7 linked regions of the Homo sapiens genome follow. The protein of the gene in region 1 interacts with the protein of each later gene in a biochemical or structural test. Each region holds a gene or a part of one and is shown on either strand. Other genes may lie near its edges.

The links.
Region 2: of the proteins of RNF7 (region 1) and CSNK2A1, one has a biochemical effect on the other in vitro, tested with the Homo sapiens proteins (2 studies listed by BioGRID).
Region 3: the proteins of RNF7 (region 1) and UBE2L3 form a complex in vitro, tested with the Homo sapiens proteins (2 studies listed by BioGRID).
Region 4: the proteins of RNF7 (region 1) and UBE2D3 form a complex in vitro, tested with the Homo sapiens proteins (5 studies listed by BioGRID).
Region 5: the proteins of RNF7 (region 1) and UBE2S form a complex in vitro, tested with the Homo sapiens proteins (3 studies listed by BioGRID).
Region 6: the proteins of RNF7 (region 1) and UBE2F form a complex in vitro, tested with the Homo sapiens proteins (10 studies listed by BioGRID, with this or other methods).
Region 7: the proteins of RNF7 (region 1) and UBE2D1 form a complex in vitro, tested with the Homo sapiens proteins (11 studies listed by BioGRID).

The regions. Positions count from the first base shown.
Region 1 is NC_000003.12:141,744,226-141,748,634, reverse strand, and holds the end of RNF7 (RING-box protein 2), read right to left. Parts: intron 3,477-4,409; coding exon 3,358-3,476; 3' UTR 1,075-3,357; downstream 1-1,074. UniProt on the Homo sapiens protein: Catalytic component of multiple cullin-5-RING E3 ubiquitin-protein ligase complexes (ECS complexes), which mediate the ubiquitination and subsequent proteasomal degradation of target proteins.
Region 2 is NC_000020.11:498,028-502,554, forward strand, and holds part of CSNK2A1 (casein kinase II subunit alpha), read right to left. Parts: intron 1,908-4,527; coding exon 1,806-1,907; intron 1,279-1,805; coding exon 1,228-1,278; intron 1-1,227. UniProt on the Homo sapiens protein: Catalytic subunit of a constitutively active serine/threonine-protein kinase complex that phosphorylates a large number of substrates containing acidic residues C-terminal to the phosphorylated serine or threonine.
Region 3 is NC_000022.11:21,591,308-21,595,834, reverse strand, and holds part of UBE2L3 (ubiquitin-conjugating enzyme E2 L3), read right to left. Parts: intron 2,975-4,527; coding exon 2,879-2,974; intron 1-2,878. UniProt on the Homo sapiens protein: Ubiquitin-conjugating enzyme E2 that specifically acts with HECT-type and RBR family E3 ubiquitin-protein ligases.
Region 4 is NC_000004.12:102,802,928-102,807,454, forward strand, and holds part of UBE2D3 (ubiquitin-conjugating enzyme E2 D3), read right to left. Parts: intron 1-4,527. UniProt on the Homo sapiens protein: Accepts ubiquitin from the E1 complex and catalyzes its covalent attachment to other proteins. In vitro catalyzes 'Lys-11'-, as well as 'Lys-48'-linked polyubiquitination.
Region 5 is NC_000019.10:55,401,543-55,405,341, reverse strand, and holds part of UBE2S (ubiquitin-conjugating enzyme E2 S), read left to right. Parts: intron 1-863; coding exon 864-1,054; intron 1,055-1,194; coding exon of another isoform or gene 1,195-1,341; exon of another isoform or gene 1,342-1,379; intron 1,380-1,999; exon of another isoform or gene 2,000-2,210; coding exon of another isoform or gene 2,211-2,399; intron 2,400-2,684; exon of another isoform or gene 2,685-2,752; intron 2,753-3,579; coding exon 3,580-3,799. Other genes in the region: RPL28 (large ribosomal subunit protein eL28), read right to left, coding at 2,211-2,399. UniProt on the Homo sapiens protein: Accepts ubiquitin from the E1 complex and catalyzes its covalent attachment to other proteins. Catalyzes 'Lys-11'-linked polyubiquitination.
Region 6 is NC_000002.12:238,028,976-238,033,502, reverse strand, and holds part of UBE2F (NEDD8-conjugating enzyme UBE2F), read right to left. Parts: intron 2,948-4,527; coding exon 2,890-2,947; intron 1,282-2,889; coding exon 1,249-1,281; intron 1-1,248. UniProt on the Homo sapiens protein: Accepts the ubiquitin-like protein NEDD8 from the UBA3-NAE1 E1 complex and catalyzes its covalent attachment to other proteins. Together with the E3 ubiquitin ligase RNF7/RBX2, specifically neddylates cullin-5 (CUL5).
Region 7 is NC_000010.11:58,358,705-58,363,231, reverse strand, and holds part of UBE2D1 (ubiquitin-conjugating enzyme E2 D1), read right to left. Parts: intron 1,895-4,527; coding exon 1,831-1,894; intron 1,738-1,830; coding exon 1,706-1,737; intron 1-1,705.

The sequences.
Region 1 (4,409 bases):
AATTTAAAATATATTTGTACTTTAATTCTAATTTTCCTTATAGCCAAATCAGTAATATTTTATTCTTTAAATGCTTTTTTAAAAAACAAGGGCTGGCCCAGTGTGATGGCTCACGCCTGTAATTCTAGCACTTTGGGAGGCTGAGGCAGGTGGATTACCTGAGGTCAGGAGTTCAAAACCAGCCTAACCAATAGGGTGAAACCCTGTCTCTACTAAATACAAAAAATTAGCTGGGCATGGTGGTGCATGCCTGTAATCCCAGCTACTCAGGAGGCTGAGGCAGGAGAATCTCTTGAACCCGGGAGGTGGAGGTTGCAGTGAGCCAAGATTGCGCCACTGCATTCCAGCCTGGGCAACAAGAGTGAAACTCTGTCTCGAAAAAACAATAAATACAAACAAGGGCTTACTAAACACTGAAATTTTCTCCTTTTCATTGCAGAGCATAAAACGTTCATTACTCCAAACTACCCGTGGCAATAACTTTTACTTATTTATTTATTTTGGAGACAGGGTCTTGCCATGTTGCCCAGGTTGAAGTGTGGTGGCTATTTACAGGCATGATCTGTATACTGCAGCCTCAAACTTCTAGGCTCAAGCAATCCTCCCGCCTCAGCCTTCAGAGTAGCTGAGACTAGTGTGTGCACCACCATGCCTGGCTCCATGGCAATAACTTAAAAAGCAGCAAAGTGCTGCTTTTTCGTATTTCTTTTTTTTTTTTTGAGACAGAGTTTCGCTCATTGCCCAGGCTGGAGTGCAGTGGTGCGATCTCGGCTCACTGCAATCTCTGCCTCGTGGGTTCAAGCGATTCTACTGCCTCAGCCTCCCGAGTAGCTGGGATTACAGGCACCTGCTACCACACCCGGCCAATTTTTGTTAGAGACAGGACTTCACCGTGTTGGCTAGGCTGGTCTCGAACACCTGACCTCAGGCAATCCACCCACCTTGGCCTCCCAAAGTGCTTGGATTACAGCGTGAGCCAACGTGCCCATCCATGTCCAAGCATTTCTATATTGAAATACAACTGAATTACAAGTTCTTTTTAGTTCTGTCATATAACAATTACATACATTTAAATTATATGTGTAGGAAATATATTTATGAATTTCACTTCATGACAGTAAAGGGGGACACAGTATTTTTATAAAAAAGGAAGCAATGGGACTGACAGAATTAAGATTTACTGATAGCGGTCAGCTGTAATAACACAATTTGCATAGAGGGAAAATTAAATAGCGAAAGATAACTTGTTTGTTTCTAATGCAACAGTAAAATAAAATCAGCACATTTAATCAAATGGAAAGAAAAACCTGTTTGATGCTTAACTTTTGTATTGGAACCCAAAATTGTCCCGGCATGTTCCCTCTGATGAGTATGTATTAAACTTTCAGATGGCTGTGCAGATGAGCTGTAATCATCGCAGGCTGAGCAGCATCAGCGCTGCTTTGTCACAGTGCCTCCTCTTCCCTCAGATGCTGGTGTGTGGCATAAACAGGGCTTTGTTAGGTGGCGGGACTGTGGTTTTGCTGTGTGGAAAATCAAATTGTTACCACCATCCTCCACATTTCATTTATATACTGTCACACTGCCTAAAGTAACCTGACATTCTACTGCTTTCCTCTTCAATGCAAAGCCATGTATCTGGTTCACATTTTAAGGATGCAACCTTCTAAAAAGGTCAAACAGAAAGTTACTAAAACAGTTCACTGCACAATGATAAACATTTAAATGGCCAAAGATATTTGTATAATTTTTTCAGTAGCTAGAAAGACAACTGTGAAAAAATATAAAGAAAAATTTCCAGAGAAATGTGATCAATAAAAAGTAACCCATATAAAAGCATACATAATTTTAATTTTTCATTCTAATTGTTATCTTTTTAAACATTCTATGTATCCACATCCCTTAGATTGAAAAATTCAGAATGGCACACTGCATCTGCAGATGTGAAAAGTTAAGATTCTAAGGTTTTTTCTTAAATTCATATCAGTAGCCTCTACTACAGAAGAATACAAAATGAACTTGTGGTCCATTATTTGTTACAAAATAACCTCCCCTCAGTGTGAATCAGTTTGATAAAGTTGTTTAGTATTTTCTTGCACTCTTTCCAGGTAATAAACCTTAAATTTTATTATTGTCAAATGAAAGAGCAAATGAATATGAATTCTTTCAAATTAAATGAAAGTATTTACTTGACAAATTAAGGTTGCATATAAAATTATAATGACAATTCAAATAAGGTAAGCAGAATAAACCATTTATTAAAACACTGTGTGATAAACTTTTTGATCCAATGCTACACTGGTAAACATTTTCCCTCATTAACATGTTACCTAAAACACAGTTAAATTATATCATCTGGGCCAGGTGCAGTGGCCCACACCTGTAATCCCAGCACTTTGGGAGGCTGAGGTGGGCGAATCACCTGAGGTCAGGAGTTTGAGACCAGCCTGGCCAACATGGGGAAATCCCGTCTCTACTAAAAATACAAAAATTAGCCGGGTGTGGTGGCACACACCTGTAATCCCAGCTACTCGGGAGGCTGAGGCAGGAGAATCACTTGAACCCGGGAGGCGGAGGTTGCAGTGAGTTGACATCATGCCACTGCACTCCAGCCTGGGTGGCAGAGCAAGACTTCACCCCCACAAAAAAAAAAAAAAAAAATTATATCATCTGACCAGAACTAGAAAATACTTCTGTCCTTTACCACTCAATGATTGAACAGTGAGGTGAGTGCAGATCTAGGTTTTCTTGATGAATCAATGATACAGAATAGTAACTTTAAAGGCAATCAAAATTCCATATGCTCAAAAGTTAAATTTTATTTACCCTGTTCACTGGCCCAAACTTAAAATCCTTATATCACATAAAGATTTCATGGACCGTTCCCTCTCCCTGCCAAAAATACGTATTAGGAACAAATTAAGAGTAAGAGTTGGGTTTTAAACTGCACTTTATTTGTTACTGTAACATTCTTTTTTAACTGATCAACCATAAGCATGCAAAAAGTTCTCTGAAACTGCTTCCACTGCCTGTTGTATAGAAATGGGTAAATTATAAAGGTGATTCAATTTGGAGCTCTTTCCTTTTTTATAGCACTTCTAAGCTGTGTGCGCGACACACACCACAGAGGTAGGAAGGACCACCTTTAATAAATTATCTTCTTAATCGCAGAGAATTTCTGAAGATAAAACTGACAAAATGCTAAACCAAGGCTTTGATGAGTCCCAAAGGACCACAGATCCATCGGCTCCTATTTGAAGAATTCATCCCCTGTAGTGTTCTAGCCTTTGTAGGGCACTGGATTACAAGATCCACCAGGGCTCTGAACAACTGCGCTAAGAAGCCTTCTAACCACTCTCATTTGCCGATTCTTTGGACCACCCAGTCCTGCTGGCAGAGAGGGCAGCGATTGTTCTGTTTCACCCACAGGGACATGCAGCAGTTGTGGAAGGAATGATTACATTCTCCCCAGACCACTGAAAGAAAGAAAAAGAAGAGTTGACATTACATATTTCAATTTAAACACTGAACTCAAAATTATAGCTTATTTTATATTACAAATAATAATCTTGAAAAAAGATAGTTAATTGGCCAAAATAATGTTTTTCTATCTATAAAGAAACAGAAACTTAAATGTGTAAGTTACACAGAGACATAAGTCACTGTTTGAGAGCCTTTCCATCACTGTTCTAGAATCTATGGGTGATGTGATGACCCCTAGTTCCTACACAGCTCCACATGCTGTCTTCTTGAAGTTAGATGAATGTTCTTGAACCTTCCTTAGATCTGACCTTCTCAGTCATGCACTGACCTTAGAGATCTTCTGGGCTTTATTTTATGGGAAAATGTCCTTCCAATTTTTATTTACCAAGACAGAATGAGTTGTAAATGTTTTTAGTATGCAGTAGGCTATTATAAATAACATGCTTCTAAACATTCAGTTGTGCATCTGAGCTGAGCTGTTTTCTAGAAGTGATGAATTGTGTTAAGTCACCCATAAGCAGTGCAATTCCTCATGTGACGATGAAATTTTCAAAGTGGCTGGCTGGAGAGAGAGGTCTCTCTGTGATCAAAGAAAGTGGCCTGCCCCTCACAATTCCCAAATTAATACTTTTTAAACAAGCAGCATGAAAGAAAAACTTTAAAACAAGGGAAATCATCCACAATCTAGAATGCAATCTCGAATTTGGGATTCATCTGTCCCTTGCTTGATCAACTGAGCTATATGACAAGAGAAAAAGATTAAATGAAAGAAATAAGGCAGAGAAAAAGATTAAATGAAAGAAATAAGGCAGAAAAAAAGAAAAAAATGCCTATGAAAATTGGCTACAGGGGGTAGGAAGCAAGGGTGAAACATTCTAAGCGTTTCAGGAGGAAGAACTGGATCAAAACTGCAAGAATCAATATTA
Region 2 (4,527 bases), on another chromosome or scaffold:
GATCTAGATACGTTAATATGCACTGACACCCACCTATAATTTAGTTTGCTTTTCATGTATCTTCAGACCTTCTCAAAAGAGGCATTTTGGCAAATATACTGCCTCCTTAGTAGGGAACTAACTCATCTTTGCCTTACATAGTTGGCCCTGCAGATCACCAGTGGGTATGCAGATGGCATGATACCAAACCTGTTGAGTCAATTTAACAAAACTATTCTTGTTCCAATTGGAAAGTAAACTCTGAACAACTGTTATGTATCCTTTCCAGTTTCCAAAGAGTTGCAGAATGTTTTTTACATGGACATATCTTTTTTTTTTTTTTTTTTTTTTGAGACAGGGTCCTCACTCTGCTGCCCAGGCTGGAGTGCCGTGCTGCAATCATAACTCACTGCAACCTCAAACTCCTGGGCTCAAGCGATCCTCCTACCTCAGCTTCCCCAGTAGCTAGGACTACAGGCGAAAGCCACCATGCCCAGCCACAGGTACGTCTCTTTAATGGTTAGCAACGTCTTCTGACAAAGTTTTTCTTGAAATTATCATTCTGACTCTAAAGCAGTTCCTCTTCCTTTCTCCCTATCTCTGCAACAGAATTCACTAATTTATTAATATATAACATTCTGGATACTGGACTGGTGGAAAGGCAAATCGAAGATTTTTACTTTTACTCCAAAAGAGTAGCTATATTCTTCTGTAAAATTGGAACTGTGTGAAATAAGTAGGCCACTGGATAGACTGGAATTCTGAGATATCTCTTATAGAGGTTTGTGTTATGGCAGAATTTGACATTATCCTTCCTCGATCCCTGCCTTTTAAGATCTATAGCCCACAGTTTATGAGGAATCCTAAGAAATAAGCAGTCCCTACTTTTATACATACAATATATTTCTTCCTGAACACTATTGTTTAAAGCGAATTGCCATATGGCCAGATCCTAAGTGAACGTGTGTTACTGCCTTCATTAGGTTGGACATCAGCAGAAACTGTCAACTAAGTAGTGAGAAGTCAATGTGTTGGTCATTAAAAAGAACATTAAACAAATGGGCAAAATATCAAGATGCAGAAAGTGGGCACTGCTTATATAGGAGTTCTTCTATCTTAAAATTTGCACTGTAAGGATGAAAAGCTTTTTAAAAACAAATGCGAAGCAAGCTCTTCTAACAGCATCATCCCCAAAGGCTATGTGGTCTAAAAACCCACTAGCCCGAAACAGTTGGTTATATATTATACCTTGAAGTCTGTGTTGTTTACGTGTTCAAAAACCAAGGCGGGGGTTCGTGACTAGGGGAAAAGAACAAAAACAAAAACACACATTAGCAATAGCCCTGACAGCTTTAATGGGGACAATGTTTGCGGATGCTGCGTGGTGAAATTTGGCAGTCCTCGCCTCAGTAGTAAGAAACCCTCTATTGCTACAAGCCCTCCCCGCTCTGATCATCACCGCACTTAGGTCATTTTTGGGATGGATTTCAAACAGAAGACATGGAGCTGAAGTCTCACCAGGCTCTAGGCAGCCCGACAATGCGCCCATCGCCCATCGGCATCGGACCTGAGTTTGCAAAATGGATTAACACATTTCAGTTTCCAGTGCTATCAGTCTCTTAGCCTAGAAGAATAAGAAATAGTCTGTGGGTGGAGGTCTCTTTGAAAGAAAGACCCAAGCTAGTTAAATGGTATATCTGATTAAGCACTTTCAAAGCAGGACTTAATGATGAGGGTTGGGGGAGGGAACAAAAAGAGGCCAGTTGTGCTCCAGGTCAAACACCATCTCAGCTCTGGCGGGCCTTGCTAACACCTACTATACTCACCACAGGGTCTTTTACAATGTCTGCCAGTGTGATGATGTTGGGACCTCCTCTCAAATTCTCCAAAATCTTTATTTCACGCTTAATTTTCTTCTTTTTTACTGGCTGAAAGGGGAAAAGTACATCAGCAAAAAAAAAAAAAAAAAATTTTTTCAGAGTATTTCAACACGTAGTGTAATACATAAATGATAAATGGCTTACTTATGAGCACACCTTGAAGGAAGAAAATGTGTCACATTCGTCTCTGAATCCTTCTCCTAGCACTGTGCCAGGTATTCTGCAGGTACTTACAAATGTTGAATTGAAAGAAAAAAAGATTTCTATTCCAAAGACCAGACACTTCTGCAGAATTAGCATTTCAATCATCAGTCTTGATGTTAATGTTTTAAAACATGTTAAACATGTTAATGTCTTAAAACCTTACAAAGTAGCAATTTAAATCGTTAGTAATACTAAAGTATATCAAACTTTTTATCAATTAGGATGAAACATGGGCCCTTTCCATTTCTTCCTCTAATTAGGGCCAACAACAAGGATGGCCAAAACATCTTTGTGTAGCACAACCCTGAGGGTAAAGGGTGAGTCTTGGAGTCACAATGCCCAATGTGAAACCTACCTTTACTACCTGCTGGCTGTTAATGGCAAACTACATAACCTCTCTAAGCCTTTCATTAAGTGTAAAATGAGTAACAAGAGTACCCATCTCATAAGATTGTTGCAAGAATCAAATGAGGTATTCGAAAGATTTCGGAATATGGCTGAAACATAACATAATAATAACTGTCTAGCCTGATCACCAATGCTCTTTTTTTTTTTTTTTTTTTTTTGAGACAGAGTCTTGCTCTGTCACCCAGGCTGGAGTGCAGTGGTGCAATCTTGGCTCACTGCAACCTCCGCCTCCTGGGTTCACGCCATTCTCTTGCCTCAGCCTCCCGAGTAGCTGGGACTACAGGCACCCGCCACCAGGCCAGGCTAATTTTTGTATTTTTAGTAGAGACGGGGTTTCACCGTGTTAGCCAGGATGGTCTCGATCTCCTGACCTCGTGATCTGCCTGCCTCGGCCTCCCAAAGTGCCAATACTCTTATAAATGAACCCCTCCATTCTAAAGAGTATTCTGCAGAGCATATCTTAAACATTCCTTTGTCCTTACCCATTCTTTCCACATCTGTTCTAGTATGGAATCCTTTTCATTTTTTTCTGAGGAGGGCCTTGGTCCCACTGCACCTCCTTTATAAAGCCTTTTTTTTTTTTTGAGACAGAGTCTTGCTCTGTCGCCCAGGCTGGAGTGTAGTAGCATGATCTCAGCTCACTGCAACTTCCGCCTCCCGGGTTCAAGCAATTCTCCTGCCTCAGCCTCCCGAGTAGCTGGGATTACAGGCGCCAGCCACCATGCCCAGCTAATTTTTGTATTTTTAGTAGAGACAGGGTTTCATCATGTTGGTCAGGATCGTCTCGAACTCCTGACCTCATGATCCGCCTGCCTTGGCCTTCCAAAGTGCTGGGATTATAGGCATGAGCCACTGTGCCTGGGCTTATATTATAAAGCCTTCTCCTGAATAGTCTAAAACAGTGCTGGCCCAAAGGAAATATAATACAAACCACATGTGTAATTTTAAATGTGTTAGTAGCCACATCAAGAAAATTTTAAAAAGGACAAAATTAATGTACTTTATTAATCTAAAATCTTAACATATAAATCAATATAAAAATTATTAATCTATTTTACCTTTTTTTGTATTAAACCCTTGAAATCTAATGTATTTTACTCTTACAGCATATCTCAATTCAGCCCAGCCATATTTCAAGTGCTTAACAGCCTCATGTGGCCTGCGTGCCTGCTGTACTGGACTGTGCAGGTCTTTTCCTAGGGTGTTGGTCACCTCAGACTAGATGCACTGCATATAACTCTTAGAAGTTAAGTACATCTCATCTCTTCATTAACAAGATTGGTGGTTACTAAAGTTTGATGACCAACAATCACCTGGATTTTTTTAATATACAGACTCACAGAACCCACCAAGATTCACTAAATCAAAATCTTGAGAGGGAAACGGGGGATTTATTTTTAGATACTTTCCAGGCTGATGATCCAGGTCCAGAAACTACCAAATAATACTATAAATTCTTTTAACTTTGTCTTAAGCCTCAAGCACATGATAGCAGAAAGCAAGCAGATTTTGGAAACATTGACAGTTCTCAAAACCTGGCTTTGTGGTTGTGCAGTGTTCAGAAAAGCATTTAAATGTTTCTCACTGCTGAAAGGGACTATACTCGCCTGTTAGTGATTTACATACCACAGTTAGAACAGGTCCAATGCAAAGTGGTACCCAATAAACAGAAGCTATTTTACTAATGACTTCCATGTAGTCCATTGAATTCAACCCACGACCTCTTACCCAATACAATATCTACCTAAGAAACAAGATAATATAAGTCTTCTCTTCCTGCTTCAACTATTCAGATCTTTATAAACTGTTATATTATCTGGGAGATCTTTCCACCCTGCAGAGACTAACCCAACAACTTACCTCCTGTTTTCCATTAACCCAACTGCTGGTTTTTTAGTGGAAAAAAAAAGCTTCTGGTTGACAAAACTACTCTACAGAATGCTTCAAATCTATAAACTTAAAAAGCTGGTTTGTGACAGACCAGGCAGCTGACTCAGGCCCGAATTTAATGCGATCAATGCAACTTTTGTCTTATTAAATAGGGGAGATTAAAAAT
Region 3 (4,527 bases), on another chromosome or scaffold:
GTTAAGAGTAAACACATTCACTGGGCTAGAAGCTTCAAGAAGGGTGACTACCACACCTCTAGTTCCTAAAGGGCAGTACACAAAATGTAACTGAATTTCTTGATGATGTGATTATGGGTAATATTTTCTTCCTTAGACGTTACCTTAGCATCTTAGATGAAAAAAAATTACAGAAAAACAAATGTTTAAAGGGAATAGACCAGAGTTGCGTTGGCAACAATGAAGTCTCTAGGAAGTACCTCCCCAGCCTTCCCTCCCACCTGCCCTCCTCTGTGCACTACGACCAGGGCAATCGCTAGGTGGCTACCCAAGGACAGCACCACTCTCCACTAAGGACCAGGGCTGGGCTGCCATGCCTTCATCGGCCTGGCTCTACTTTTACCCCAACTGGGCAGACCTCAGGTGAGTTTGTATAGTAGATTCCCATGCTGGCCCAGCCCGTCCAATGCAGGAAGACCTAAAGCCCAGGTTGGGGTACAAGTGTGGACCCTGGGGATGTCAGATGTCAACAATGCCTTAACTGCTCTGGAGAAGGAAGAAGACTTCATTGAAACATTCCTCATACAAACCCAGGGGCCCTGGAAGAAAGCAAGGGAGAGGACCGAGAAGAAGTGGTATACACAGGGACAAGAGCAGCCCTGGCTGTTGCTTACCGTCTCCAAGGTGAAACTTTGGCCTGGATAGCTCCCCAGAGCCTCAGCCCAAGCACACTTGGATTCTACCAGCCAGCCTCCACCTTTGCCCTAGTAAGATCTTAGCCCACTGCTCCATAGCCCCTGCCAGCGTGAAACCAGAGGGAGGCCTTTGCATGAGTTGGGGCAGAGCATGCCCAGCAGCAATCTACCCGTGGAGCTGGCTAGCAGGCTCTCAGGCCACTAAATTCTCAGGGCCAGACTGCCCAAGCCTTACCACTTAAAACCATTCCATTCATTTTTATCATTTTCCAAAGAGCCACAGATTAACTGTTCATTTCTTTGCTCAGTAGACTACACAATCTCAATTAGAAAAGGGACAAGAGGTCAGATGGTCCCGGCCATCTTCAGGTCCCTAGAGTAGGCAAGGGCTGCACTCACAGGCCAACCCCTCCCATGCAGAGGTGTCTCTGCCACCCACACCCTTTGCCCTGAGCCCTAACACCATCAAGCCTAAAGAAATCTAAAGGACTCATCTTCAAAATCAGACTGGAAGCTCCCAGATTTAAACATTCTGAGCATACTAAATCATTACAAAGCATATCTTTCCTTAGTTATCCAAATGATTATGGAAATAAACTACAAATCCAATAACTGCTGATCAAATTCAGGGACTTAAAAAAAAAAAAGCATGACCTTATAACCAGCATCAAGAAGAAAGCATCTACAGGAGGGAGCATGCTCCATGCTCACCTTATAACCAGCATCAAGAAGAAAGCATCTACAGGAGGAAGCATGCTCCATGCTCACCTTATAACCAGCATCAGGAAGAAAGCATCTACAGGGAGAAATCATCTACAGGAGGAAGCATCTACAGGAGGAAGCATGCTCCATGCTCATGACCTTATAACCAGCATCAGGAAGAAGCATCTACAGGAGGAAGCATGCTCCATGCTCTGCTTTGGCAAAGCAGCCAATCCATCCATGAGAACAAATTATATACAGGACAGCGGCAGGCACAGGGCAAGGGCCAGAGGCTCAGATGTGCAAAGTGGGAATGAAAAGGAACAGAGAAGGTGAGTGGATGAGGAAGAACAGGAAAGGAGGGCACTCACGCAGGACAAGGGTGTGAGCTGAGGTAGCTGAAGGCTACACAATGACCAAGTGAGGCCGCCTGGTGGACAGATGGTGCAGCTTCCGGGGAGAAGGCAGGAATGGAGACAGGTGTGGGAATCCTTCATGTCTGGCATAATCATCTATGATGCCGAAAGTAGTAGGGTCCCGAGACAAAACAGAACAGGAGAACAGCAGGAGACCAACAAGAGTCATGTTTAAGAGTGAGGAGGAAGGAGTGGCAGAACAGGAGCGAGTGGCAGGCTGGTCACAGGACTGGGGGCTGGAATGCTGCCCGTGCTCCAAAAGCTCAGGAGGCAAGCAAGGGCCATGATGCCAGCACTGCCGAGCTAGAGGTGTGACAACAGTGGGGGCAGCCTGTGGGCTGGGTGTGACGTGGTTTCAGGAGAGTGAGAGGAAGGGGGATTGCAAACTGGAGTTAATTATAAGACAAGCCTCTTGAAGGGGAGGGGATCAAAGGATGCAGAAAAGAGTAGGCACTAAGAGGGTGCTAAGGAAAGCCATCGTTAGGAGGGCCTTGAGCCCATCAGAAGGCAGAAGACTGTGAGATGGGGGAGCTGGGCTGTGGGGGCAGACACTGGAGGCATAAGCCCCAGAAAAGACATGGGGTGAGGGGAACATGTGGGCAATTAGGAAAAGGGACTTGAGACAAATGGAAGGCACAGGTTGGAGGGGACCAGGAATAAAGCCCGAAATACAGGTATCCAAAGGGTTAGAGACATGAATGCAAAACCAAGAGAGAAAGCAAAATATCTAGAGGGGAATGCTTGTCCCCTCCTGAGGAGCTCAGAGAAGAAGGTCCTGCTGATCCATCAGGCCAGGCGCAGGGAAGTCAGGAAAGAGCAGGAGCACAGACACACTCCTTTTCTCTGTGTCTACAGATCTGCAAAGCTCAGGACTCCCTGAATTTGACAAAACGAGTGCCAAGATGTGACTCTACTCAGGACCCAAGGCTACACTCCCTACCTTATCACCCTAGAGCGACAGCCACTTCTGTGCATCTGCTGGCTGCCTAGACTAAGAGCCTACTAAGGAGCAGAAAAACAAGCCCAACAGCACACACATCACCTTAAAGAATAATCTGGTAGGAAGTGGAAGTGTTCAATACTCACAGGAACAATAAGCCCTTGCCAAGTCAATAAATTAGCTTCATCAACCTGGATGTTACGGAAGTTTTTCATCCCACATTTGCGGATTTCTTCAAGCTCCTGTTGATTGACAAAGCATAAAGGGGTGTCAAATAGGGGAAAGCACCACATATTAAGATCCCTCCTGATGCCCTCAAATTAAACCAAGTGCCAAAAATGCTAATGACAAAATTGGACAGTGAGGACTAAACTGTGCTTGGAGTGGTTAAGGAGGCATGGAGCTGCCATGGCGGTCCCCTCTGCAAGGTTGTTGCCTCTCCCCATGCCCCAGACCAAGACAAGCCCCCACCTCAGTGAACCCCCCTGAATAGGACAGGGGGAACCATGCTTCTGCAGACGTACCACCTCCTCTTTGGGTTGGTCACCATGGCTGTTTAAATCCCTCAGCACCCTGCATAGGGCAGACATGTGGCAGGAGCTATCCTGAGGTGCTCTACACCTGATACCTTCCAATCAAGATTCATTAAGCACTGATTATGCACCGGATGCTGAGAAGCTAAAGATGAATAAAACTGGGGACTGGGAACAAACCAGACACAAACGCATATCCAGTTTTCTACCCAGTGCTATAAGTGTGATTTCAGAAGGACTCCACCTCAACATGGGCACACAGCAAAGAGAACCATCCAGTCTGGGACTGGGGTGGGAGTGGGGGGGTGGGGACGGGAAACCTTCACTGAGCCTGTTTCCTCAGCTGCAAAACAGACCCAGAGTGCAGAAAAGGAAAGGGAAGCCATGTTGTGGGCAACAGGACCCCTTGCAAATATGTGGGGTTATTGTTGTATAAACAGTCAATGCAGCAAGTGCCATTTCACCCAGAAAGCACAACTTTACGACTTCAGGGTCCTGCCTGAGATGTCTTCAGAACTGTCTGTCACCTGTTTTTCAACTGTGCACCAGCCTGACATTTCCCATTGCCTCCAACATCTCAGTGAATGCCTGGCAGGCGCTATAACCCAAACCACCCAGCAATGCCCTCCTGCCAGAACACCAGCCTCGCCAACATTCCTCCACTCTGACACATGAAGTGCCACTCTACCCGCCTCAGCCCGGCCTCCCATCCAGTGGCACAAAAGCCGCCTCCACACCTGTCAGGCACCTTCTCTTCTGCAGCCCGAGCACCATCCAGCTGAGCCCTGCCTCCTTCGCCAGGCTGCTTCCTCTGGCCCAGCTCCAGCACCCTCCAGAACCTCCTTACGTGGTACTTCAACTCACAGTGGCTTGGGGGCTCCCTATCAGCCCCCACATCAAGCCCAAAAGATCCTTGCACCTCATACTTCCATCACACAGTGGTAGTTTAAAAGGCACCCTGAGGCTACACAGGCAGGGAAGGAAACAATTGGCAAGGAAGGGGGAACCGGAGCCCAGGTTACTGGTTCTGAGTAGGAAGATGTGCTGGGCGCCCGGCCCAGAGCAGCAGAGAGGGAGAGTGCAGTGAATGAATACACGGAAGAGGTGGAACACACTGGTGCTTCATAGCAGGCAACAGGCACAAGTTTCCCCCCACAGGGTGCTCCTGCCTGTCACCCTCATCTGCCCACCACAATCACCTGGACTTGGGCCCAGCCCCAGAAATTCTGGTCCAGCAAGTGTGGGTGGAGCCTGAACATAGG
Region 4 (4,527 bases), on another chromosome or scaffold:
GCAATAAAGCCTACATAATCATGTTTCAGAATAATCTGTAAACAAAATTTTACACATGTAGATTATTTCTTCCAATAGCCAGATGTGTACAAATGGCTTCACAACAGTCCATTCTGCCCACTGGCAAACCAAATGTTAGCTATTCCAGGTAACACACACACACCACCTTCAAGAGGAGAACAGAGAAAAGCCTAAGCTTCTCATTTTAATCAATACCAGAAAATACATGCATTGCCCCTATTTTATGCATGAGAAAAATGAGGCTTAAAGAACTTAGTCTAGTGTACAAATGGTAAATGATAGAACCAAGATTCAAACACAAGTCTTTTGAAGACCACTTAATGATCAAAGATACTGACCTACTCAGGAATTTAAAGTTAAAATGTGGAATGCCTAACTGCTTCTGGGTATGCAAAGAACCAATCCGAAGACATGTTTTACAACTTACATGAACTGGGTTTTTACCAACACTGACTCCCCTCTATTAGAAAGGCTTTGTATATACAGCTATATATGAGCCTTTCACTATGCCCATTCTGGATGTCAGGCACATAAAAAACAGGCCTGACACTAACACAGCTCATCTAATTCCTACCCTTCTGTAAAATAAATAAACATTAATTCAATTAATCTAACCCCTTGCTATATACTGTATGTGTGTTAAGGGATCCAAAGAACAATTTTTTTTATCTTGATGAGCTTACACTGATAGACATGTAAAGTAACTGCAATGAAATGTTATAGGTATCATGAAATATGAACAAGGGACACGAGTTCAAAGAAGAAAGGTCAATTTATTAATGAAGAATCAGGTTCAAAGAAATATACAACTAGTAAATGGAAGAGCTTTTATTTATTTGAGACGGAGTCTCACTCTGTCGCTCAGGCTTAAGCGCAGTGGCACGATCTCAGCTCACTGCGACCTCTGCCTCCTGGGTTCAAGCAACTCTCCTGCCTCAGCCTCCCAAGTAGCTGGGATTACACATATGCACCACCACACCCAGCTAATTTTTGTATTTTTAGTAGAGACTGAGTTTCACCATGTTGGCCAGGCTAGTCTTGCGGCCTCCTGACCTTGTGATCCACCCATCTCGGCCTCCCAAAATGTGCTGATTATAGGTGTGAGCTACTGTACCCAGCCAGAGCTTATTTAAAGTGAGTCCTTCTCCATCTCCCAAGTCTTCCCCCTTTTTTTTTGTAGGGGTGGAGGGCGGGGGGAATGGGAACGGGAAGGGGGACAAACAAGACGCAGAATATCATCTTGCTGTTTGTTGCCCAAGCTCGAGTAAAATGGTGCAACCTCAGCTCACTGCAAGCGCCGCCTCCCCAGGTTCAAGAGATTCTCCTGCTTCAGCTGCCTCAGTAGCTTGGATTACAGGTGTGCACCAACGTGCCCAGCTAATTTTTTATTTTTAGTAGAGATGGGGCTTCACCATGTTGGCTGAACTCTTAACTCCTGACCCCAGGTGATCCGCCTGCCTCAGCCTCCCAAAGTGCTGGGATTACAGGTATCAGCCACCGTGCCCAGTCCTTTTTCATATTTTCTACAAAATATGGAACTAGAAAAACACTCAGGTCACTTAGAATGTGACCTGAGTTTATTAGATTAACATGTCTTTATTAAATAGTTATATTAATTTTGAATAGATGCTTCAAATAGCATATACTTTCACCTGATCCAATACTATACAAGATATGTTTTTTCTGTGTAAAATTAACAATTTAAAGGTAATCCCAAACACTAAAGTTGTTTTTGTTTTTTTTGAGACAGGGTCTTGCTCTGTCGCCCAGACTGGAGTGCAGTGGCACGATCTTGGCTCACTGCAACCCTCTGCCTCCTGGGATCAAGTGATTCTCCCACCTCACCCTCCCGAGTAGCTGGAACTACAGGAGTGAACCACCACAGTTGGCTAATTTTTTTTGTCTTTTTAGTAGAGACGGAGTTTTTGTTGTCTTTTTAGTTGAGAGGCTGGTCTCAAACTGCTGAGTTCCAGTGATCCACCCACCTTGGCCTCCCAAAGTGTTGGGATTACAGTCGTGAGCCACCATGCCCGGCCCCAAACATTGAAGTTTTAATAACCTAATTCCAGAAGTTCTTTGTAAGCTTTCATTTCAATTTTCATAAAATCAAATGCTGTCTATGACTGCTTCTGAATAAAGGCAATCTGCTGATGGGATTTAGGCAAAGCCAAATTTCGTTTCGTTTGTTCGAAAAAAGAACTTTATAAAGAAGGCAAAATATTTCAATGTTACAATTTAACACTAAAGTTCTGCCATGCCAAAAGAGGAAGAACTACGAGGTTCAGAGATAATGAAACTAGGCAATATAAAAAATTGAGACCCTATGATATTTAAATTCTATTATGAATCAGCAGCAAACTACACCAAAAAGAAACAAAATCCCCAAAGAATAAGGAACACTGTGATCAGCAAATCGACTCAAATCGTACAAGTCCAGAATTTATGTTAGATTTTTTCAGAAACCTTCTACTTCTTTTGCTCTCATCAGTGCAAAGTTGCTCCCTCACAGTGCCTCAGCTCTTCTGTGGCAATAAAACGTTGGTATTCTTTTTTTTTTTTTTTTAAAGTGGTGCTGTCGCCCAGGCTGGAGTGCAGTGGTGTGATCTCGGCTCACTGCAACCTCCACCTCCCAGGTTCAAGTAAATTCTCGGGCCTCAGCCTCCAAAGAAGCTGGAATTACAGGCATGTGCCACTACACCCAGCTAAAAATGCTGGTATTCTTATAGGTTGATTTTCTACTCTTAACTGCTGACCCATAAAAATTTGAGTTGCAAAATATATCTCTGGTCAGTTATTCATTCCAGGGCATATATTCAAATGCCTACTGATATTTCTACTTGGATATCTCTACTTGGATATCTCATGTCATGCGTCCAAAACTGAAACTTGTCTCAATCCCTTTTTTCCTGTTTATTAATAGCAAGCCATAACTGAAAGCCATAAACCAGGATCTCATCATCAACTTCTTCCTCTCTTATCTCAGAATCAAGATAGTTATCAAGTAAGATCTTTAAAATTTCTTGAATTAGCTTCTCCTTTATGCCCACTGTCACTACCATCTTAGTTCATGATGTTATCTTCAGCCTAGATTATGGCAATAGCTTACTAATGATTATCCCTCCATCCTAATGATAAAGTGGTCTTTTAAAAATGTTACTCCCCTGCTTGAAATCTATGATAGTTTTTAAGATAATTCCAACTCCTAAGTACATACGGTGCTTTATGATCTGGGTGCCCATCTAGTTTCATCTTCTGTCTCTTCTATAGAACATGTTCTCTACTGCACATAAAATATTATATGGATAACATATCTTTTTCTCTTCCCTACTTGGAATATTCTTCCTTATAATATAGCCCTTCCTTTGTCTTATCTGCTCCCTACCCTTCTTTTATACCTCTTTAAGCACATAGTTACCATTATCCACCCATATATCTAACATTTACTTATATTTCTCTTTTATTAGACTACAAAGCTCCTCAACGAGTAAGGTTAAAGGTGGAAAAAGTCTTCAGGTATCAGTAACCTACGTGGGAAATGACATAATAATACACTTGAAAAAAAAGTTGAAAAAATAATCCTTATGGACCAAATAAAATAGTACCTATGGACCAATTATTTTAATTCAGATAGTTTTTCTGGTTGACTATGCTCAGGCTGCCAAAGGTTACATTTTTCAGATACTTTCACATTTTTCACAGGTACTCTCTTCTACATCTCTGTCATAGATTAGGTGGGAGTTAGTGTTGTTCTCTAAATCCACTTTTTCTGGATTTCCAATAAAAAAAAATTTAAGCAAGTAAATATCAGAGGCAATAGGTAAGGAAGTCAATTTCTTCTAATTACATCAATTCTTGTTGGAAACTAACCTTAATACAGTACCCCACGCCCCCCTCCCCAAAAAAACCCACGCACACAAAAAACTAGCAATGCTGTCATTTCTTTCGAAGGTTTAGTTTTTAGTCAATAGTTGTGCTTCCGAAGTAGCTTACCTTCAGAAAGAATAAGCCAGTACATATGATTATTAAAGCCAAGCAATTTTGCTGCATAACTAATGATCTAAAGGATTTCCCAACAACTCACTAAAATCAAAGTTACTCTATTGAAACTCAAAATTAGATGGTATATTCCCTACAGTCAGGAATCTTCAGTTCTGTGGCACTGGCACCACTTTAAGGGACCTAAGTAGTAGTCCAAAGCAAAAGTGACGTTGTTAACTGTCCAGTTCTCCCACTAAATCTGTAATTTATGGGTTGCTTTAGGTCACAACTGCTTGCTACATAGAGCAACCATACTCACAAAATAAGCTACTATTTATCTTATACAGTGATGCTTTGTCACAAAGAAGTATTGAGAAGCCAAAAGAACAAAATGAGTTGTTTCATTGGTGCACTCCACAGTAAGCATATAGTTAACTATTTAAAGCTGGCATCTAAATTATGTGCTTACTTATGTACAAGACAATACCCGTACTTTGGGTGGATTTTTATAATCTTTGACTCCTTCTT
Region 5 (3,799 bases), on another chromosome or scaffold:
GAGATGGGGTTTCACCATGTTGGCCAGGCTGGTCTCGAACTCCTGACCTTGTGATCCGCCCGCCTCAGCCTCCCAAAGTGCTGGGATTACAGGTGTGAGGCACCGCGCTTGGCTTTTTTTTTTTTTTTTTGGAAACAGAGTTTCGCTCTTGTTGCCCAGGCTGGAGTGCAGTGGCGCGATCTCCGCACACTGCAACCTCCCCATCCCGGGTTCAAGGGATTCTTCTGCCTCAGCCTTCCGAGTAGCTGGGATTACAGGCATGCACCACCACGCCTGGCTAATATTGTATTTTTAGTAGAGACGGGGTTTCTCCATGTTGGTCTGGCTGGTCTTGAACTCCTGACCTCAGGTGATCCACCCGCCTTAGCCTCCCAAAGTGCTGGGATTACAGGCGTGAGCCACCACACCTGGCCTCTTGCTCTTAAGAATTCTACAGCCTGACTGGGCATGGTGGTTCACGCCTGTAATCCCAGCACTTTGGGAGGCTGAGGTGAACAAATTGCTTGAGCCTAGGAGTGCAAGACCAGCTTGGGCAACATAGTGAGACCCTATCTCTTAAAATAAAAAAGTAGCCAGACCTGGTGGCATGCCCGTAATCCCAGCTACTTGGCAGGCTGAGATGGGATCACCTGAGCCCAGGAATTGCAGGCGGCAGTGAACTGAGATTGTGCCACTGCACTCCAGCCTGGGTGACACAAGAGACCTTATTTCAAAAAAAGAAAAAAAGAATCCTCCAGTCTGTTGGCAGAGTTGGCGGGGCACCCACCTGCATCACAATCAGACCGTGGAGACTGGACTTTGGGGTGTTGAGGTGCCTTGGGACTCCTGAGTGCCCTGACCCTGTACCCCTCCCTCCACTCCAGAGGGGACCCCATATGCTGGAGGTCTGTTCCGCATGAAACTCCTGCTGGGGAAGGACTTCCCTGCCTCCCCACCCAAGGGCTACTTCCTGACCAAGATCTTCCACCCGAACGTGGGCGCCAATGGCGAGATCTGCGTCAACGTGCTCAAGAGGGACTGGACGGCTGAGCTGGGCATCCGACACGTACTGCTGGTGAGTTCTGGGCTGGGGCTGGGCCTCCTGCCTCCTGCCTCTGGAGGTCTGCTGGTGTCTGAGCCATAGCGCTTTGTTTAGTTTTTCTGAATCAACTCTGAAGTGGTTGAAGGTTTCCACATAAAAATCCATGTTGCTAGCTTTCCTGGAAAGACAAACAGTGCCAGACCCAGGACACCCAAGTACTGTTGAGAAGTGCCCAGGAGCACCTTACTATGCAACGAGTGGTGAGTTTGTATTGTAGGATGGTTTTTCTCTTCTCCCTTTTTTTTAAAAAACAAGGATAGGGTAGGCCAGGTGTGGTGGATCACTTGAGCTCAGGAGTTCGAGACCAGCCTGGCCAACATGGTGAAACCCTGTCTCTACTAAAAATGCAAAAATTAGCCGGGCATGGTGGCACATGCCTGTAATCCCAGCTACTTGGGAGGCTGAGGCAGGAGAATCGCTTGAGCCTGGGAGGCAGAGGTTGCAGTGAGCCGAGATCGCGCCACTGCACTCCAGCCTGGGTGACAGAGTGAGACTCTATCTCAAAAAAAAAAAAAAAATAAGATAAAAAATAAAACAGGAATGGGGTCTCATTTGTTGCCCAGGCTGGTGTCAAACTCCTGAACTCAAGTGATCCTCCCACCTCGGCCTCCCAAAGTGCTGGGCTTATAGGAGCCAGCCACTGCGCCTACCCTGTAGGACAGTTTTCTGACAGGTGGAGGTCAAGGGTCTAGTTAGAAGCTCTTTCTTTCTTTTCTTTCTTCTTTCTTTCCTTTTTCTTTCTTCCCTTTCTTTCCTTTCTTTCTTTTTGTTTTAAAGATACTGGCTCTTTGTTGCCCAGGCTGGAGTGCAGTGGCGCAGTCATAGCTCACTGTAGCCTTGAACTCCTGGGCTCAGGTGATCTTCCTGCCTCAGCTTCCTGAATGGCTGGTATTACACGCATGCACCACCATACCCAGCTAGTTTTTATATTTTTATGGTTTGCAGAGATGGGGTCTCATTAGAGGCTTTTTTGCTAAAGCTGAGCTTACATGCCGTAAAACTCAGTTCCAAAGTATACAGTTCAGTGGTTTTTTAATAGCGATAGGGTTCATAAACCAGTGTTTCTCAGCCAGAGGTGATTTTGCCCCCCAAGGGGTATTATGCATTGTCAGGAGACCAGAAAGGGTTGTCACAACTCGGGGGTGCCACTAGCATCTAGTGGGTGGAGGCCAAGGGTGCTGCCCAAATCCTGCAGCGTACGAGATGGCTCCATGACACAGAATGACCTGGCTGCGGTGTTGCTGAGGTGGAGGCGTCCTGGTCTAGGCTGGTGCTCCAGGCTGCTTACAGCCTGCTGCCTCCCAACCCTTCCCGCAAGCTGAAAAAAAAAAAAGTTAACCAAATTTCTAATGAGTCCCTGGGGCACATGGCAGAGAGGGTGGGGAATTGGGGTTTCCTGCCATGGGGAGGGAGAGGATTGAGCTCCAAGGTAAACAGACCCCAAACCCTTCCCTCCCACATGTACCGCCTCCCTTCCCCTGGGGTGTCATTGGAGGCTGCTGGGGACATTGGCACCGAGCTCCAGGCCTACTTGCTGCTAGGTCAGCATCTGGGCCTGTCAGGGGCTCAGCCAGCAAGAAGAGCAGCCAGACCTGCAGTTTGGGTGCAGTGATGAGAATTAGGGTGGGAACCTGTGTCCTGGTCACCATCAGTGATATCTGCTGAGCATCTGCTGAGCCAGGTACTGTGTATGTGTCATAGTGGCCCCAGGGAGCAAACTGCTGTGGCCAGTTTGCCCAGACCCACTTCAGAGGATCCAGCTGGGGCTGCTGGAGGCCTGGCTGCAGGTCACACCTCTGCACTCCAATTTACCCCTCAGGACGGGCTGTGAAGGGGGTTGAGAGGAATCTCTGGACCACCCTCGAAGTGCACCTCAGCCAGCAGTCCTGGTGTCTTGCCCTCTTGTGTGTGGTCCAACCCAGCTAGAGTCTTAGGCTGTGAACTTCGGATGTCTGATAAAAGACAGAGGTCAGGATTTATGCTGTATCTGGAAAGATGGGGAGCTTTAGAGTCCAACACGCAGGTGTGATTTCCTCAAATCCTGAGGCCCTGGGGAAGTCTCTTCTCTCTGTCCAGGCTGCAGGCCTCACTCGTTGAACCAGAGGGCCTCTAAGGTCATGCTGAACTGCATGGAGGCAAATTCAAAACCATAATAGGACTCAAGTCTGGGGCTCAGGCAAGTAATGGACTCCTGAGAGGGGGCCTTGGCGTTTCCCCCGTTACCCAGCAAGTTCCACGGAGGACCAGGGACATTTTAAACCATTGGGCCTATGGCATCGTGTCCTTTTGGGAACATCTGCTGTGAGGCAGGTCACATGAAGGTGGCCTCTGAGGGAGACAGGAGCAAAGATGAGGGAGGATGCAGCATAGGTGGGGCCTGGATCTGCAGCTGAGTTGGGAGCAGAAGGAACAGCCAGTGCGGAGGCCACCCTCTTGTGGAGGCCTGGGGGTCCCTGTAGGTTGCCCGACCCACTGTGACCCTGAGCCTCTTCCCACAGACCATCAAGTGCCTGCTGATCCACCCTAACCCCGAGTCTGCACTCAACGAGGAGGCGGGCCGCCTGCTCTTGGAGAACTACGAGGAGTATGCGGCTCGGGCCCGTCTGCTCACAGAGATCCACGGGGGCGCCGGCGGGCCCAGCGGCAGGGCCGAAGCCGGTCGGGCCCTGGCCAGTGGCACTGAAGCTTCCTCCACCGACCCTGGGGCCCCAGGGGGCC
Region 6 (4,527 bases), on another chromosome or scaffold:
ACACCTGGCCAGGAGGATGCTCATAAAACAGCCCACTGGCCTGGGTGGACCATCCAAGATCATAGAGGCACCTTAGGTTTTATCAAAAGTAGCAAAAACTATTTTTTCACAAACAGATCTCTGAAGCTTATTTCTTTAAAAGCGCCTTTATGAATCGAAAAGTAAAAATTCAAAGGAACGTATAATATCGTATAAAAAAAATCCAACCAACAGCTTTTGGCTGAGTCCATTTAGCCTCTTCCTGCCCTAGGGCCATTGTCTGAGAAATGCTATTTCCTGAGAACAGCAAACTTCAGCAGCTCATCACTGACAAAAAGACAACAACTCTGAGGTTCTGGACTCATGAAAAGCCCTCAAGGCTGGGTAACCACAAAATCATCCACCCCAACCAGAACACCTGGGAGGTGACAGGGCCACTCCCTGGGCTGGCTAGTGTAGCCACAGGCACAGAAGTGGACTGGGCCAAGTGACCCCAGAGTAACAGCCACCCTGCTGGAAGGGGCTAAGGGAAGTGGAACCAGCCTCATCCCCTAGAAACCGGGGTCAGCCACCTCAGCAGGGCAGAAGTGAGACTGCTGTGGCCCCTGCCCCAGACAACCTCCCCACATGTCACTCCAAAGTCCCCTCATTCCCCACCTCACTGTTCTACTTCTGACTCATAAAAGAGCAATAGAAAAAAGGGGTAACTATGTAACTGTTTGCACGGTGGGCTATTTTTTAATTTATTATTTTTTTTTAGAGACAGGTCTTGCTATGTTGCCCAGGCTGGTCTTGAATTCATGGGCTCAAGTGATCCACCTGCCTCAGTCTCCCAACGTGCTAGGATTACAGGTGTGAGCCACCATGCCCAGCCAGCATGTTTTTGGGGGGTTTTTGTGTGTATCTGTTTTTTGAGGCAGAGTCTCTGTCGCCCAGGCTGGAGTACAGTGGTGCAATCTCAGCTCACTGCAACCTCTGCCTCCTGGGCTCAAGCAATTCTCCCACCTCAGCCTTCCAAGCAGCTGGGACTACAGACATGTGCCACTATGCCCAACTAATTTTTCTATTTTTTGTAGAGATGGGGTTTGGGCCTCCTGGACTCAAGTGGGGATCCACCCAAAGTGCTAGGATTACAGGCGTGAGCCACTGTGCCCAGTCCATGTTTCATTTTTTAACATGGTTTTGTGTTAAAACCATGTCTTAACGCAATGTCTAAAACCAGCAACAAGGAAATTGAGAATAACTTGGGATTTTGATCACTGTACTTACAGTAAACAAAGAGTTTAATCCCCAAACGACATCCTGAAATAAAAAAGAAAACAGAAAACAAGTTTTAAGCCAAAGTGCACCTAGTCTTTTAAACCCATGATCAAGAAATATGCTTTGCACTGTATCAAAACCTGTCTTTAGCATGGTTTGTTTTTCTCAAGATAGAAAATTAAAATAACTTCTCTTCAAGTGTAACAACAAACTCTGGAAAATTCAAAGATATGAGCAGTCTCAGGTAGTGAATATAAAATCAAAGATAGCATCAGACACCCTCCCAGTCAGACCTGACAAGCCCAATCCTGCACGACAGGGCCCGCAGGCCAGTGTCTGCATAGGGGCTCCACCTTAAATCACCTCTTACTTGTTACCACCAAATATGGTTCTGACTTCTAAAAAGTCACCTTCAAAATAAAGTCTGTTGTTTTTACATCTACTGCCTCTTGCGGTCGTAGATAAGTTAATTACCCCTCATCCTATTAAGTTTTCTTAATGATTTTGCATTAGTTATTTAAAGAATCATAGAAGATTCACAATTCAAGGATCAGAGATTTTCATTAAATAAAACTGAAAGCCAGAGTTGTTCTATCTGTACTGACCTGCCATCTGTGAATCACAAATTCATTCTCCATTTTCCTCTTCATCAACTCAAGAGTTTCGTCCTTTTTAGGCCTGTTCTCATGCTCCTCCCCTACTTTTTGCTAGTTGGTAATTTTATTTGCCTTTCTCTGTTTTCTCTAGTCCATCAATCCATCCACCCACCCATCCCTGACCTTCCGATGTGAGCCAGGCCTAGGGTTGGAGTGTGGGTGAAGGTGAGCCCTCAGCCTGAGGAAGGGGGATGTACAGATGGGCAGGTCAGCAGGCCAGCACTGTTCATGAGACGTGTTCCCCAGAGCACCCACCCTGGGAGGAGAGGCTCCAGAGGCAATGACAGCCATCTGAGCCCCAGGGGAGCAGGAGTCTGCCAGGGAGAGGGCTGGAGGAGAGGGCCGCCTTCCAGGTAGAGGCACGACCTGCAGAGGGAAAGTTCTGAGAGGGCAGGACATTTCTAGAGCGTGGGGAGAGGCTAAGAAAAGGCTGGGTGGGCTGCCCATGGTGGCAGAGACTACAGCTCGGAGGAGCTGGGTCAGGACTGCATGCAGTCTGCAGTGTTCCCTTATGCAGGGCCAGGGCCAAAAGCCCCTTCCTGTGCTGTTCCCCTAGGGTCCCTGCCTGATGTTAGGTACCCAACACCTGACAGTCTTCTCTGGCCATAGGGAGTGGTTTGCACATCAATTTGCTGCTCCTCCTCCAACACCTAGTGGCCAGAAAAGCTCAAGACATCCCTGTTGAATGAATGATGGCCATGAGGTTTCCTATGTGGCGGGTGGTTTGGCTGTGAAGCCTGCAGTTTGGGCTCCTATCTCTGGTTCTAGAATGGTGCCTGGCAAAGTCAACAAGGATGCTCATCCGGCCCAAACTGACCGAGGTCAGTGACTGGCTAAGTAGCCTAGGCAGCAGGGAGAAGAGGAGGCAGGGTGTGTCCGGCCACTGGTGTGGATGTGACAGGCAAGGACATGTGCTGCTTTCTCGGGAGGCTGGCTACTGCAGGGAGAGGACCACAGGGACAACTTATGATCAAGATCAAGGCACAGACTCTACCTTTAATGTTCTTGTGGGAGCCCAGCCAGTGCCATCAATTGAATGTTCTCTCAATAAACTGAAAAAGACAAACACACAGTGGTTAGTGAGGAGCAGCCACAGGTGCCCTGCACGCTGCCAACTAGTCCTCTCGGTGTGTGCCATGCAGGAGCTCTACTTTTTATTAAACCCATCTTTTCCTCTGTGGCTTCTCAGTTTTCTCTTGCTGAGGAAGGCATTTCCACCTCCAAGGTTATATACATATTCAATTATAACGTCTTGTGTTATGTTTATCTATTTGTTGTAATACTTGACATGGAAGTTTTAGGCTGAGGAAGAGCATGTTTAAAACAACACACAAAGAACATTTGTCAATTTAATATTCAGAAAATGACAATGGTGGCTGGGTATGGTGGCTCATGCCTGTAATCTCAGCATTCTGGGAGGCCGAGGCAAGGTGGGAAGATAGCTTGGGTCCAGGAGTTTGAGACCAGCCTGGGCAACACAGTGATACCCTGTCTCTACTAAAAATTAAAAATTAGCCAGGCATAGTGGTGCACGCCTGTACTCCCAAAGGTGGAGGACTGCTTGAGTCCAGAAGTTCAAGGCTGCAGTGAGCTGTGATGGCGCCCCTGTACTCCAGCCTGGGAATAGTGTGAGGCCCTGTCTCAAAAAAAAAAAAAGAAAGAAAGAAAGAAAATGACAATGGCAACAAAATGACAACATGACAACAGGAGTAACTGAAGCTTAGAGCTTATTATGTGTATGTCAGGCACAATCCTAGGTGCTGTGCCATTAAATTCACTTAATGCCTATAACCACCCGTGAAGAGAGCATCCCTGTTTCCCTGTCTTATACAGGAGGAAACCAAGGCACAGAGAAGACACGCCCAAGGGCACACGCCTCATGAACAATGTTGTTCTTCCAACCCAGGCAGCTCACGGGCACCGACATTCTGAAACACTGCTGATGCAGGTTAACAACAATGGGAGCTCCCAGCATATGACATTTTAATAACTGGGTTTTTTTTTTTTTTTTTGAGACGGAGTCTCTCTCTGTCTCCCAGGCTGGAGTGCAGTGGCACGATCTCGGCTCACTGTAAGCTCCACCTCTCCGGTTTTACGCCATTCTCCTGCCTCAGCCTCCTGAGTAGCTGGGACTACAAGGCATGCACCACCTACGCCCGGCTAATTTTGTTTTTTGAATTTTTAGTAGAGACGGGGTTTCACCGTGTTAACCAGGATGGTCTCGATCTCCTGACCTCGTGATCCGCCCGCCTCGGCCTCCCAAAGTGCTGGGATTACAGGCGTGAGCCACCACGCCCAGCCGTAACTGGGTTTTTTTTTTTATTTTTTTAAAGTTCAAAAGAAAAAGCTTGAGGATAAAAGATTAATGCAAAATTCTGAGTATCAATCACTCCTTAGGTGGGGGGCCCATGCTCAGGGAAGGCACACCAGGATTCAGAGGTCTGATGAAGCCCTGTTTCTGAAGCTGGTACCTGAGAGTCCTGGTCATTACTGTCTATCAGCTGTAAAGGCACACCATATACTCTCATGGAAATGATCATTCCAGTGCTCACTTCCGCAGCACATATGCTCAAATTGGGATGATACAGAGAAGATTAGCATTTTCCCAATAATCTTAAAAAGTAAAAAAAAA
Region 7 (4,527 bases), on another chromosome or scaffold:
CAGTATTTTTTTTGAAAAAGGGTTGAGGATAGTAAAACTTAAGTTCTGATGTTCACTTGATGACCAAGAATGGAGATGAACTGAAGAGGCTGTCGTGAAAAGAAAATGCTAAGGACCCTGCTACACAATTTATGTGCCAAATCTTCGTTTAGTAATTATTTATAAAATAATGTAGAGAACCCAAAAAAATCCAAAACAAAATTATATATTCATGCTACTATCAAATTGGGAATCAACTTTACTAGAGAAATTTAAATTTGACCATGTTTCTTTATAGCCATTAGAAAATATAACATTACAAGCAAAAAAATTTTAAAAAAAGAAAATGCTAGCAAACTATACCTACAATTCTATTTTAATTCTTTCATATTTAATTAAATATATCATGTTATATTAGCATTCTGGTAATAACACCAAGACTCATTACTTTCTCGTTAAGTTTCCACATATATGCTAGAGGATTTTCCTGTATAATAATTCTTACTATATATATTGTTTAAACAATTCTAGTTTATCAAAAATTGTAAGAAATATAGAAAATGAAGATAAATTACAATGACAGATATGGTCCAGAGTACTGTAAATATTTACATTACTAAAGTAAGGGAGTTATGAATAACATGATTATAACCATTTGTTACATGTGATTCACCTAAAAAATATTTGTGAAAGGCCATAATTCAAAAGGTAAGGGTGGGCCTTTAAATGAGAGTATTTTGAAGGTTCTTAGTAACTAATTAAAAACAAACAGAAATAAATGGATTCTTATTGAAAGTTGTTATATAAATACATTGTATTTTGCCTTTTTAGAAAAACAAACTTAATAAAACAATAATTTGAGACAACTGCCCAGAGTACTGCTTTGAAATTCAGTAGTTTTGGTGTTTTTTAAAGTTAAACACAAGGTCGTATGATTAAAAACTCTGTAACTCACTAGATAAAGCTCTTTCAGGGCAGGGAGAAGAGAATGGTGTTCATGGAAACATGTTACTTATGTACTCTCACCCAGAAAGTAGATTTGAGCTGTCAGTGCTCATTCTTATGCAATCAGATTTTTTGCTCATAGAAAGAAAAAGCCTGTTTCAAGTCTTGTAACTGCCTCTAAAGTATTGAAAGAAATAATTTTAACAAAAGTAATAAGTATTGAGAGTAGCCAATTATCAAACAGCAGATAATTTTGTGTTTAGGACAATGCAACAAAATTAAAAGCAGCAAATTTATAAGGAGGTAAAGACAGACCCATTGTAATATTTTATTGATTCTCTTTCACAAAAAAGAACAGTGATGAAACTTATGGCAAACTGACACTTGTTACTTGTAGGAATTCAATTATTGGCTTCATTAGACTAATTTCTAACCTACCAAAACTGTGGATGTGAGAATGATTATGGTTAATTACAACTAACTCTCTGTGACTTAAAAAAAAAAAAAAAAAAGATAAACACACAGCCTGGTTGCGAGCTGTGGCACTCCATTATGTGTAATGATCTAGGATTCAGCAAAGGAAAACATAATAGTGATCCCAGGAAATATTTGCCACCAATGCTTTGGAAAATCATTGTAAATCCTTAATAATATTTTGCTTCCTAGGTGATTCAAAGTACAAGAATATTCAACCTTCATCACAAACATCTGATCAAAGGTGAAATGGCAAGAATGAAGTATGGCTGAGGGGGTTAATTTCATAGATATGAATCATACTTACAGGCCCCATAATAGTGGCTTGCCAGTGGAACACTGAAACAAACAAAGGAGTTTTGGAGTCATTAACAAATGTTCAAACCTATATTTTTAAAGGTAGCATAATCCCAGAAATAGAGCAAGGCTTACAGTCATCTCCCACAGGTCCAGCTGAACAGTGAGCAGGTGGATCGCGCTGTAGATCACTCAATTCCTGAAGGAAATCAAAAATATGTAAGGTTAATTCCTTCTTTTCCCAATGAAACAAGGGTAATGATCCATTAAGATGCAAACTATTAGCTTTAAAAACATTTAAAGCAGTTCTATTCAAAATATAAAAACATAAATTGTACTCTGTCATTGACTGGTAGAAAGAATAAGGTACTCAATTCCTCCATGAGACAGCTTCAGACCTTGAAAAGATTAAATGGAAAAAAAATACTGTTTTTCTTTAACATCCCTAAGAGAAAAACTATTTAATGAGTACCTACTGTATGTAAGATAATTTATGTAAATGCTAGGTTGATAATATATCAGAAAACAGGTACTATTTTAACAGGTTACAATCTATTGAGGGAGCATGAAGGCTCAGAAAGAATAATACTTCAGGATAACTTTTTTTTTTTTTTTGAGACAGGATCTCACTTTGTCGCCCAGGATGGAGTGCAGTGGCACGAAAGCTCACTGCAGCCTCAACCTCCTGGGCCTAAGCGATCCTCCCACCTCAGGCCCCCACTCCTACCCCGAGTAGCTGGCACTACAGGCATGTGCCAGCACACCCGGCTAATTTTATTTGTAGAGATGGGGTCTCGCCATGTTGAACAGGTTGTTCTCCAACTCCTGTGCTCAAGTGATCCACCTGCCTCGGCCTCCCAAAGTATTGAATTACAGGCATGAGCCACTGCACCCAGCTCATTTAAGGACAACTTGAAATGGGAAATAAACGAGCAGCAGTCAGGCCATGTTTTGAAACTTAGAACATTGATTCATACCCTGTTTCCTGCCCTCAAGGCAGCAAAGATCACAGAAAGGACACAGCTTTAGAGTTCACCCCGCCCCTGGGTTGTAATTCCAGTTCTTTCCATTTTTCTTCTTTTCTCTTTTTTGGATTTTTTTTTTTCCTCTAACAGAGAGAATTCCAGTTCTAATAGATCTCACTCTTTGGCCTTGTGGAAGTTACTTCACTTCTTTAGCCACAGTTTGGGAGAAACTGATCATCCCAAAGAAGAAAGGCATACATTCAATATAAAGGACTATAACTGAAGAACTTAATTTAGTTTGGAAGATCAATAATCATCTCTGAGGAAGTGACATTTAAGCTGAAATCTAAAGGATGAGTAGGAGTTACTTTTGGAGGAAAAGAGTGATACTGGGAGGCAGAGTGGCAGAGGATGAGGCTGGAAATGTGGGCAGAAGCCAGGCAGGAAACAGACAACCATACAGACCACATTAATGATGTGGTGTTTTATACCAAATGCATTAGGTAGGGGGTGAGGGAGGTCTTAAGAAGTGGCATGTTCTGATTTAATGGATGGTTGTGACTGGATTAGACATGGGAAAGAGGAGAAGCTACAATATTAGTTGCTGCATAGGCAAGAAAAATGGGGGCTTAGATTGGAGAAGTGGCAACAAGATAGAAGTGGTAGATGTGAGATACTCTGAAGGGCCTATCTATCACAGGAGTTGATGAATTACATGTGCAGAGGAAGGAGAGAAGTCATAGATATGTATGATGAAGATTAGGGACAGCTAACATTTATTCAATGTCTTAGTCATTCTAACAATCCTCAGAGATAGGTGTTATTATGTTCCCCATTTTACAAGTGAATAGTTAAGGTGACATACTTCACTGCATGCTTGAGTAACTACTATAGGGCGGAACTGGGATTCAAACCCAGGTGGGCGATCATCTCATGTTTTAGTTCCACAAATGTACGAATGTGGATGCCATTCACTGAGATAGAGAACAATAGAAGACAAACTGATTTGGAGAGTAGATATGTTGAATCTGTAATCCTTGTGATATGAAGAAACAATGTGGTTCAACATACAGGGGTGGACCTTAAAAAAGGATAGAAATTGGAAAATCATTGCATATATCTGATATTTAAAACCATGAGAATGATGTAAACATTTTTGTGGGAACACACAAAAATAAATATGCACTTAATCAAATCTAAGATGTCATCAACTGTACAGCACATCCTTATTTTAAGTACCAATAATTAAGAAAAAATGCTGCCAATTTATTTTAAAACACCATCAATTGTAAAATGCATCCACACTTTAGAAAAGTTAAAATGTGAAAGATGTCCACCTTAGAATCACTGCAATAAGGTAATTATGGCAATGAGTTCAGTGCTCTAATAGAGACAAACAAGAAGGAGGGTGTGACAGGGAAAGGCCTTCCTAAGAAAGTGATAAATGAGCTGGGTGACTGAGCCAGGTACAAACTCAGGTCTCCTTCTAAGCTCAATGTTATTTTCCAGTATACCTTGGTATTTTCATTTTTGTTTTGCTTTTTTTTTTTTTTTTTTTAAATAGCTGGTGCGGTTTCTCTTCCTAGTAAGAATTAACTAACAGGGTTAGCTGCTTCTTTGGTCCATGTTACAGTTAAGCAATAACGGACCAAGCAGGCTGATTCATGCCTGTAATTCCAATTACTTGGGAGGCTGAGGCAGGAGGGTCGCCTGAACCCAGGAGTTCGAGGCTGCAGTAAACTATGATTGGGCCTCTGCACTCCAGCCTGGGTGACAGAGCAAGACCGCATTTAAAAAAAAAAAGAAAAAGAAAAAGCAATAAGGAAACAGATTTCAGACTTTGACTTAACTATGCTGGGTAAAAGCA